Regions from separate parts of the Homo sapiens genome. Here region 2 is linked to region 1. The links come from fine-mapping of genetic effects on gene expression. Tissue or cell type: whole blood. Region 1 holds a variant in brackets; the other region holds the start of a gene. All regions are shown on one strand. Distances are from middle to middle.

The links. PIP is the estimated chance that this variant, and not a neighbour inherited with it, causes the effect.
Region 2: it holds the start of NSMAF, and the variant in region 1 is fine-mapped to the expression of NSMAF in whole blood (TOPMed, PIP 0.98).

Annotation. Positions count from the first base shown.
Region 1 is chr8:58,593,074-58,597,314 of GRCh38, reverse strand. It overlaps NSMAF (neutral sphingomyelinase activation associated factor), which reads left to right. Exons shown (of 31, transcript NM_003580.4): 22 at 1,656-1,755; 23 at 3,025-3,083. Among named protein-coding and RNA genes, the nearest start is that of SDCBP, 42 kb to the right of the region's middle. RefSeq lists enhancers at 1,090-1,139, 1,489-2,688. The variant AG/G (reference allele first, on the strand shown) is at 1,629.
Region 2 is chr8:58,657,602-58,661,842 of GRCh38, reverse strand. NSMAF (neutral sphingomyelinase activation associated factor) reads left to right here and starts at 1,990. Exons shown (of 31, transcript NM_003580.4): 1 at 1,990-2,270. The coding sequence starts at 2,212. RefSeq lists silencers at 1,913-2,252, 2,263-2,712 and enhancers at 2,424-2,986, 3,163-3,452, 2,987-3,550.

The DNA.
Region 1 (4,241 bases):
AGATAAGACGTATACTGTTGTGCTACTTAGAGATGATTGTGTTCTCCTGCCTTATTGCAGTTCTCCTGAAAACAGATACCTGTTTTTGCTGATGTTGTTTGTTTTCAGCTATAGACTGTAAGGGAAATCAAATCGCTTTTATTTTCTGGCAATTGAATATGAGTGAAAGTTGGCCATATATGTTTTGATGTGGTTCTCTTTCTCTTCTGTGGTTTTGAAGCTGGTGTTTGATCCTTAGCTATTTGCCTTTTCATTCTTACAGTCCTAGCTGTCCAGTCTGCCTTCCCAGTCACTGTCAGCCCTGCTGTCTTCCAGAAGGGACTTTCTCTGGCCCTAATTATGCTCTTCTATACCCACATACAGATCTTTTTTTTTTTTTTTTTTGAGACGGAGTCTTGCTTTGTCCCCCACGCTGGAGTGCAGTGGCGCCATCTCGGCTCACTGCAAGCTCCGCCTCCCGGGTTCACGCCGCCGTTCTCCTGCCTCAGCCTCCTGAGTAGCTGGGACTACAGGCGCCCGCCACCACGCCCGGCTAATTTTTGTATTTTTAGTAGAGACAGGGTTTCACTGTGTTAGCCAGGATGGTCTCGATCTCCTGACCTCGTGATCCACCCTCCTCGGCCTCCCAAAGTGCTGGGATTACAGGCCTGAGCCACCGCGCTCGGCCCCACATACATCTTGAATTCAAAGTGCTCTCTCTTCTTCATTGGATTTCACTTATTTAACATTTGACAAACATTTACAGGGTATCTGTTCTGCGCTGGGCATGTGCTAGGCACTAAATTGAACTTGACCCAGTTCTCACATCTAATATTTGGAAAGGTAGGAAAGAACACTCACCTTTCTCCAGTTACCCAGGTTTTAGATTTTACCTAAGACAACTTCAAACCTACAGGCTTCCAGAAGGAGGTTGACACTCTGTGGAGCTTTGGGAGCAAAATCACTTTTTATCTCCTATCCTCCTGTCTGTTCCAAGGACATCCAGACATTTTAGGCATACATAGATGAGCATTCTCTCAAGCATGGAGAAATAGCTTCCTGGAGTTACATGACCCAGGGGTAGCTTCTTTAAGAGAGAATACTCTAGAGGGTTAAATCATGAAGATCACAGGATTATCTTGTGATGCTGTTTCAAACTGCACTCTGCTTAGTCACCAGGCTGTAACCACTGTCATGTGATTGTTTTAAGATGGTAATTGTTTCAGCCCTTCTTAAAGCAGAAGTAAAAGGATTACTCCTGCCAGAAGCCCTTGCGGTAATTGATTTCATCTCTGCTTTCCCCACCCCACACCAGAACAAAATTGTTGCATTCTTAGGCAACTGTCAGGTTTTTGAAACAATGTTGACAAGGAAATGATGACTCAGTCTTGTATTTCCCCAAATTCATAAGTTAGAGGCCGAGTGAAAACTTTGCAAACATTGTTAAAGTATAAAAAGATTCTAGTATTATTCAAAGATACTTTTTATCTTTCTCTATACAATTTTTTCCTTGACTAACGTGGAACCATCTAACAGGTACATTTCAAAGCAGTTATATTGTGACAGGGTGTTTCATTTCTTAGTTGTTTGATTTTAATAGAAAATATTGTTAATCTGATGCTGTTGTCTGTTGGTAACTTAGTTGACTT[AG/G]CAAAAATTTAATGTCGTCTCTCCAGGTGAAGAGTCTTTTGAAGACCTGACCGAAGAAAGCAAAACACTGGCCTGGAATAACATCACCAAACTGCAGTTACACGAGCACTATAAAATCCACAAAGAGTAAGAATATCTCTGCTTCTTCTCAGCAGCTGATAGTCCTGGTAAAAGTTAGGGTCTTGGCATGGGATTAAACTGTTTTAAGCTGAGTCAGAGGGAAAATTCCCTTTCAATGTTGTCTTTATTTTTAAAAATCTCCCCAAAATGTCTATAGTGATCTCCACCTGAGGTTGATGTAGTAGGGAAAGTTTGGCACGAAATGATTTGTGGTGGCTACCGTGCTGTCATTTCTGCAGTCTGTCACTTCACAGTACAAGATGTGGTCGGCAGAGAGCAGCCAGTTTTGTGCCTCTCAAATTGGAGTACACAGCTCCTTGAATCTTTGATGGGAGAAGTGTGATGTATACCCCACGAGTGTTGGATTTACACATAATGTAGGTGAAAAGGCACCTTTTAAAAAAATTAGCTCTCCCAGAGAACATTGCAAAGTTCACATGAATTTTAAAAATAATTATGCTTCTAAGAAATTGGGCTTGCTGTTGGACCCAGAGATGATATGTGTGTTCTCTGCCCTCTCTCATTAAGACCTTCATGTTCTCTGGTAGAAAGGCTCGAGAAGCACTGACCTAGCCTGTTCATCCTGCTACAGAGAGGAAACCCAGGTCCAGAGACTAGGCCCCACCTAGCTCCATGACGACAGACAGCCCCTCCGGCATACAGGTCATGGGTGGAGCTGGGCATACTGCTGTGCATTAGATGGATGGCTTCACATCACAGTCCAGCCTCCCGAAGAGAAACAAGGAGTTTTGGCTGATTCATGATGACAATGGCTGTCTTTTCTCAACTTCTCTAAATGGCACATAGGAAGGGACCTTGTAATCCAAGGTAGTGAAGACTGAATGATCCTTTAAGAGGACAGGCTGGAACCAATTTTCTCATCATTGAATAGTCACTGAGTAAATTAGCTTCAGTAATCAGCAAGTGAAGTGACTGTGAAGAAGAGTTTGTCCTTTTGGTGATGGTCAAACGAGGGGGAATAGAAGGAGAAGAGTTTTCCAATTGCCAGAAATTGTCAGGAATATGTAAAGCATTGCATGTGGAACACAGGGAAGCAAAGAGTGGGGATGTTTTCTAGCCACAGGCGTTGCCAGAACGTTAGAAGGTGCCAAGCAGTGATTTGGTAATGGCAGGTTTATGCTGGGACAGATCCGGCAGACATGCTGTGAAGAAAAAAATTAAGGAAACTTGGTAAAATTAAATCAAGGATATGAAACAAAGAGGGTATCCTAACACATGATGAGTAGTAATTTGTGAAACTTTGTTTTTGAGCAGAGCAGTTACTGGAATCACGGTCTCTCGCAATGGATCTTCAGTATTCACAACATCCCAAGGTCAGTGTTCCTCCCCGAAAGGCGGCTTAACCAAAATCCTAGAATGTCTGAGTTCTTTATTATTTAGCTCGTGGTCAAGGACTGCACTTGCATGTGCTGCCTCCACATAAAGTAAACTTAGAGCAGTTCCTTTGTGGTACATTACATAGAGTTTCATGGTAATTTGCCAAAAATAATAATGAAACATCTTTCTGTTGCTGATGAGGTTTCCCAGAGTTGAGGATAGAGGACAGAAACAGCCTCCTTTCCACACCCTTGCTGGGTCAGGCACTTCCTGCCTGCCCATGAGAGGTGCGCTGTCCACTTGTTGGGGTTGGCTGTGAGTAGCAAGTGCTGTATCAGAAATTGATGTGTGCCTGTCAGCACGTGGAAATGCAGATTTGCTGTTACGGTTTGCAGTTTTGTCATTCAGTGTATATTTCTTCGGGATATTTGATTTAGCTCAAAATCAAATTCATGTATTATTTAATATGCTTATACATTATCAAAATTATAAAAACCCTTGCAGTGTGTCATTGATATGACTTATAGCTGTAAAGCAGAAAGCATCCCTTACTATATACACCATTGTTCTCTCCCTGGTAGTCTGCATTATATATTATTCATTAAAGTATGTCTTGGCCTTGTCATGTTGAGAGCACTGTGTTGGCACTCTGGAAGATGCAGAGATGGAAGGGTAGTATCTTTGCTTCCTGCTTCCATGAGAAAACAACTTGTTCTGACAAAGTTTGTAACTTTATAAAGTAAGGCTACTCGTTATTTAGTCTTTATCATAGGAGATTATATTTTTCATTCATTAAGACAAAGTGCTATCCAACTAAACACTTTCAGGAAAATCAGAATTACTACTCTCAGATTCTGTTATCATTGTTTATGATCTGTAGCATTTCATTCTGTTCTTTTTCAAATACTGTCTTGGATTGTATATAAAAAAATTTTCCACAAAGCATAGAAGTGATTCTACACAGTAGATCAAAAGGAAGTTCATGTGCAGTTCCCAAACTGGGCCATGCCAGGGTCACCGAGGCACTTCTCTGATAGAAGGAAGCAATCTGTATTTTGCCAGGATTTCTACCTGTGGAGTTTGCCAAAAATTATAGCCTCAGACAAAGTGCTTTATCTTTAAGCAAAACCTGTGTTCTTAGCAGGATTTGTCTG
Region 2 (4,241 bases), 65 kb before region 1:
AACAGAAGCCATGTCCATATCTGTGTCTTGGGCAGCAAGATGAGATGGTGGATTGCTGTGCTATTAACCCCCAGACTCAATGTTTTTTTTTTTTTTTCTTTTGAGATAAGGTCTCTCTCTCTCTGTATTGCCTAGGTTGGGGTGCAGTGGTACGATCATGGCTCACAGAAGCCTCAAACTCCTGGACTCAAGTGATCCTCCTGCCTCAGCCTCTCCAGTAGCTGGGACTATAGGTGTGTGCCACTGCACCCAGGTAATTTTTATTTTTTATTTTTTGTAGAGACAGGGTCTTGCTTTGTTGCCCAGGCTGGTCTCGAACTCCTGGCTTCAAGCAATCCTCCTGCCTCAGCCTCTCCAGTAGCTGGGACTATAGGTGTGTGCCACTGTACCCAGGTAATTTTTATTTTTTATTTTTTGTAGAGACAGGGTCTTGCTTTGTTGCCCAGGCTGGTCTCGAACTCCTGGCTTCAAGGAATCCTCCAGCTTCAACTTCCAAAAGCATTGGGATTACCGGCATGAGCCATCACTCCAGCCCCTTAGGGCTTATATACCATAGGGGAGGGGTGGTTCAGAAGGGATGTGTAGGACAATTGAAGTATAATAACATCAAGTTGTTTGAATTAAGGACAGAACATACTGGGTAGATACCTGCTCTTACACAAGGAACAATAGATAAAGTAGAAATCTTAGAGGCCTTCCCAGAACTGGGGTCAATCAGAAGTCAACACGGAGGATTAGCTTCCAAGATGGAGCTGCTTTCGCCTCCACATCCAGCAATTCCACTCTTAGATTCCAATTCCACTCAACAGAAATGGAAACATAGGTCCATAAAAAAACTGTACATGACTGTGTACAGCAGCCTTATTCACAATAGCCAAAATGTGGAAACAACTGAAATGTCCATCAACTGATGAATGGATAAACAAAATGCAACAGAATATGCTCCAGCAATCTAAAGGAACGAAGTACTGTACAGATACATGCTACAACATAGATGAACCTTGAAAGCATTACGCTAAATGAAAGAAGCCAGACACAAAAGGCCACATATTGTATGGCTCCATTTATATGAAATATCCAGAATAGGCAAACCCATAGAGACAGGAAATTGATTATTGTTTGCTAGGGCTGGGGTTTGGAGGGTAGAGTTAGGAAGAGTGACAGCTAGAGGGTATGGGTTTCTTTTACATGTGATGAAAATGTTCTCAAATTGTGGTGATTGTTGAACATATCTGGAAATATACTAAAAATCGCTGAATGGTATACTTTAAATGGTTGACTTGTTTGGTATGTGAGTTATATCCCAATAAAGCTGTTATATAAAAAAAAATCATGCGAGCAATTATCTCAACAATCAAGAGACTGTGTTAAAGATTCTTTGCTTGGCCAAACTTCAGTTAGGCTTCTGAATCTTCTCCCAGGTCCTTGTGTGCACTTCCTTGTAAATGCAGTGTTAGGAAGTAACACTGCCACGGCAGTTTAGCAAGAATCCCCCACCCTCCATATGTGATCAAAATTCTTTACTCCTACCCTTAGTATCTGACCCCCTGGCCTGCCTTCACTGGGACTCCTGTTAGGTTGGTTCAGCCAGAATTTCCCCCAGAATTGATGTTTCCTCTTAGCAGTTTTCCGAACACCTGCTCCTTGCTCCTTGGCTATAAATCTCCACTTATTCCTGGTGTATTTGGAATAGTTACGACTGAGTTGCCTTCACCCCTTTAACTTCCGTCTTTTTTTTTTTTTCACAATGGAGGACACAAAACGTTGTTATTTCAAGTCTTTGTGGCCAACAGATTGGTGGTTTATGGGCCAGCATCCCTTTTTATGCGTAAAATATTTAAAACGCAGCCTGCAATGGTTGGTAAAGTGGTGAAACGTTTAGTGTGTGAGGTCGGATCCTGGTCTGGCCGCTGGCCCTGGCGATCCTCTGAGGCGGCCTGAGTTTGGGGCGCCTCGTGTCACCGCGCGCCCCTCCTCCGGGCCTGAGTCACGGTGCCGCCGGAGTCCCCACGCGAGGATGCTGCGGTGAGCGCGGCCGGGACGCCGCGTCGGGCTCTCGGCCGCCCAGCGGCGCCGCAGGGGAAGCCAGGCCGGCAGCCGCGCGCTCCCCAGCCGGCCACCAATCCCGCCCTCCCCGGCTCCTCCGGACCTCCTCGGCAGGCGGCGGCGGGGCCTGCCTGTGCGCTCTGCGCCCGCCCGCGCCTACCCTCCATGGCGTTTATCCGGAAGAAGCAGCAGGAGCAGCAGCTGCAGCTCTACTCCAAGGAGAGGTGCGCGCCCAGCTGAAGAAGGGCCCAGCCGGGGGCCTAGTCGGGGCCGGTCGTGGGGACGCCGGCCGGAGATCTGAGGGACGGGAGGCGGCGTGGGGGCCGGGCACGGAGGCAGGGGCCGGACGCGTGTCCAGGGCCTGGGCTGGGGGCTGTGGCGGAAACCTGAGGTCGGGGTGAGAGGCCGGGGGCCTGGTCTGGGCCGGAGCCTGCCGGGGACAGGAACTGGATGACGGGCCAGGCCAGATTCCACCGCGGAGCCGAGGCATGCCGAGCTATCCGGCAGTGCAGGTCCCGGCGGCCGCGGGCAGCTCACCCGGAAGGCCGCGCGGGGTCCGGGCGTGGATCCCGGCACGCGAGCCCGGGCGTTCGCAGGGGAGGGTGAGTACGCTGCCCGGCGGGCACCCCCTTTCTAATCCTTCCCCTTAATCGGGTCCAGGCACTCGGCGCCGGCGCCGCAGAGTTGGTCGCCGGGCGGCACCGAGCAGGCCGGCGACCACCCACTCGCATTGCCGCGCCTTTTTCCTGCCGACTCCTTTAGACACAGGACTAGCTCCATGCCCTGGAAGGCTGGGAGGGGGGCCGCCGGAAAGGCCTGATTCTGAGGAAAGCCAAGGTCCTGCCTCCCAAACACTTGCTCCCCGCGCAGTGGACCTTGTGTTGGAAAGCTTTGCAGTCGAAATCGCGGTGCGGCAGCGGAGCACTCATTCTCACCAGCATCCCAGTAAGGATTTGGGATCCCTTGAGCTAAAATGGTCTCACAGCAGTTCCCTTTCAGATATGCTGGACCTGTCCCCAAGGGAAGTCTCATAAGAAAGCTCACTTCGGCTCTATGTATAGTTCCCAGGGCATTTTTGGTGACAGAAACAACTTGCTCGGTCTGCAGCTCAGATGCCAAAAGGAAAGGGGGGCTGAATCATTTTACAGACACACTGTTTTGATTGTGAGAGCCACAGATCTTCCAGTGCTGCTAGCCTGTCACGTTGTCTCATCAGTGAATACCAGCAAAGCAGGTTACACGTGGGAATACAAGTGCAGACTTCAAGATTTGTCTACACTTGTTTTATAAGGGTTGACTCGACCCCTTTGATCCAGACATTCATCTTTCTCTAATCTGTAATGTTGGTCTAACCAGTGTGTCCACAGTACGAAATGTCATTTTTCTACTGTAGAGAAGAAGATACGATACACAGAAAACGTATCTCAGATATGGCTTTCAAAAATGTTTTTGGTGATGTGATTAGGTTTTAGTCACAGAAAGGGTTGTTTATTAAATAACTGAGCCCTAACTATGTAACTCACACTTGGGGATGCCCTTCTGACTGAATTTGTAATGCATTTTTCTTGTGGAAAGAGCTTGAGTGGAGATTCTTTGTTTAGTACCAACAATATTAAGACTTGTTGGTGCTCTGTATTGAGTGGGTGAACATTCATATTTAAATTGTGAGAACTTTGACACACTTGAATTGGCATCATGTTGTATGATATGAGTCATTCGTGCCAATACTCATATTGGCCTTTTTGATATACAGGGAAACGTTTTTTCCTTGGTTCTGGCTGTTATTTCGATGAAGTAATTTGTGTTCAATTTGGCTAGCTCATACAGCTCCGTGGTGTCACACAAACCTTGAAACCTGTACTTGCATTTCCATGTATATGCTGCTTTGTTAGAATTCATTGATTAGACAACAACGTGATAGGCTGGCAGTGTTCAGAGAGAACTCTAGCTCTTGGCAACCAAAACATTTATCTATCCAGTCAGGAGGCATCAACTGTTCCTGAGCATCAGTCATCTGAAAAAGTTGGCGCCATGTGTTTTATATTTATTTGAATTATAACTTGCTGAGTGCCCAAATTGTTTAGTGCTCTGCCCCATGGCTTTGCAACCTGGGCTGATGGGCATACTCCATTCAATGCATAGAATATGCATTTGAATGACAGGAATCTGTCTCACATCAGGTATGCACTGGAATC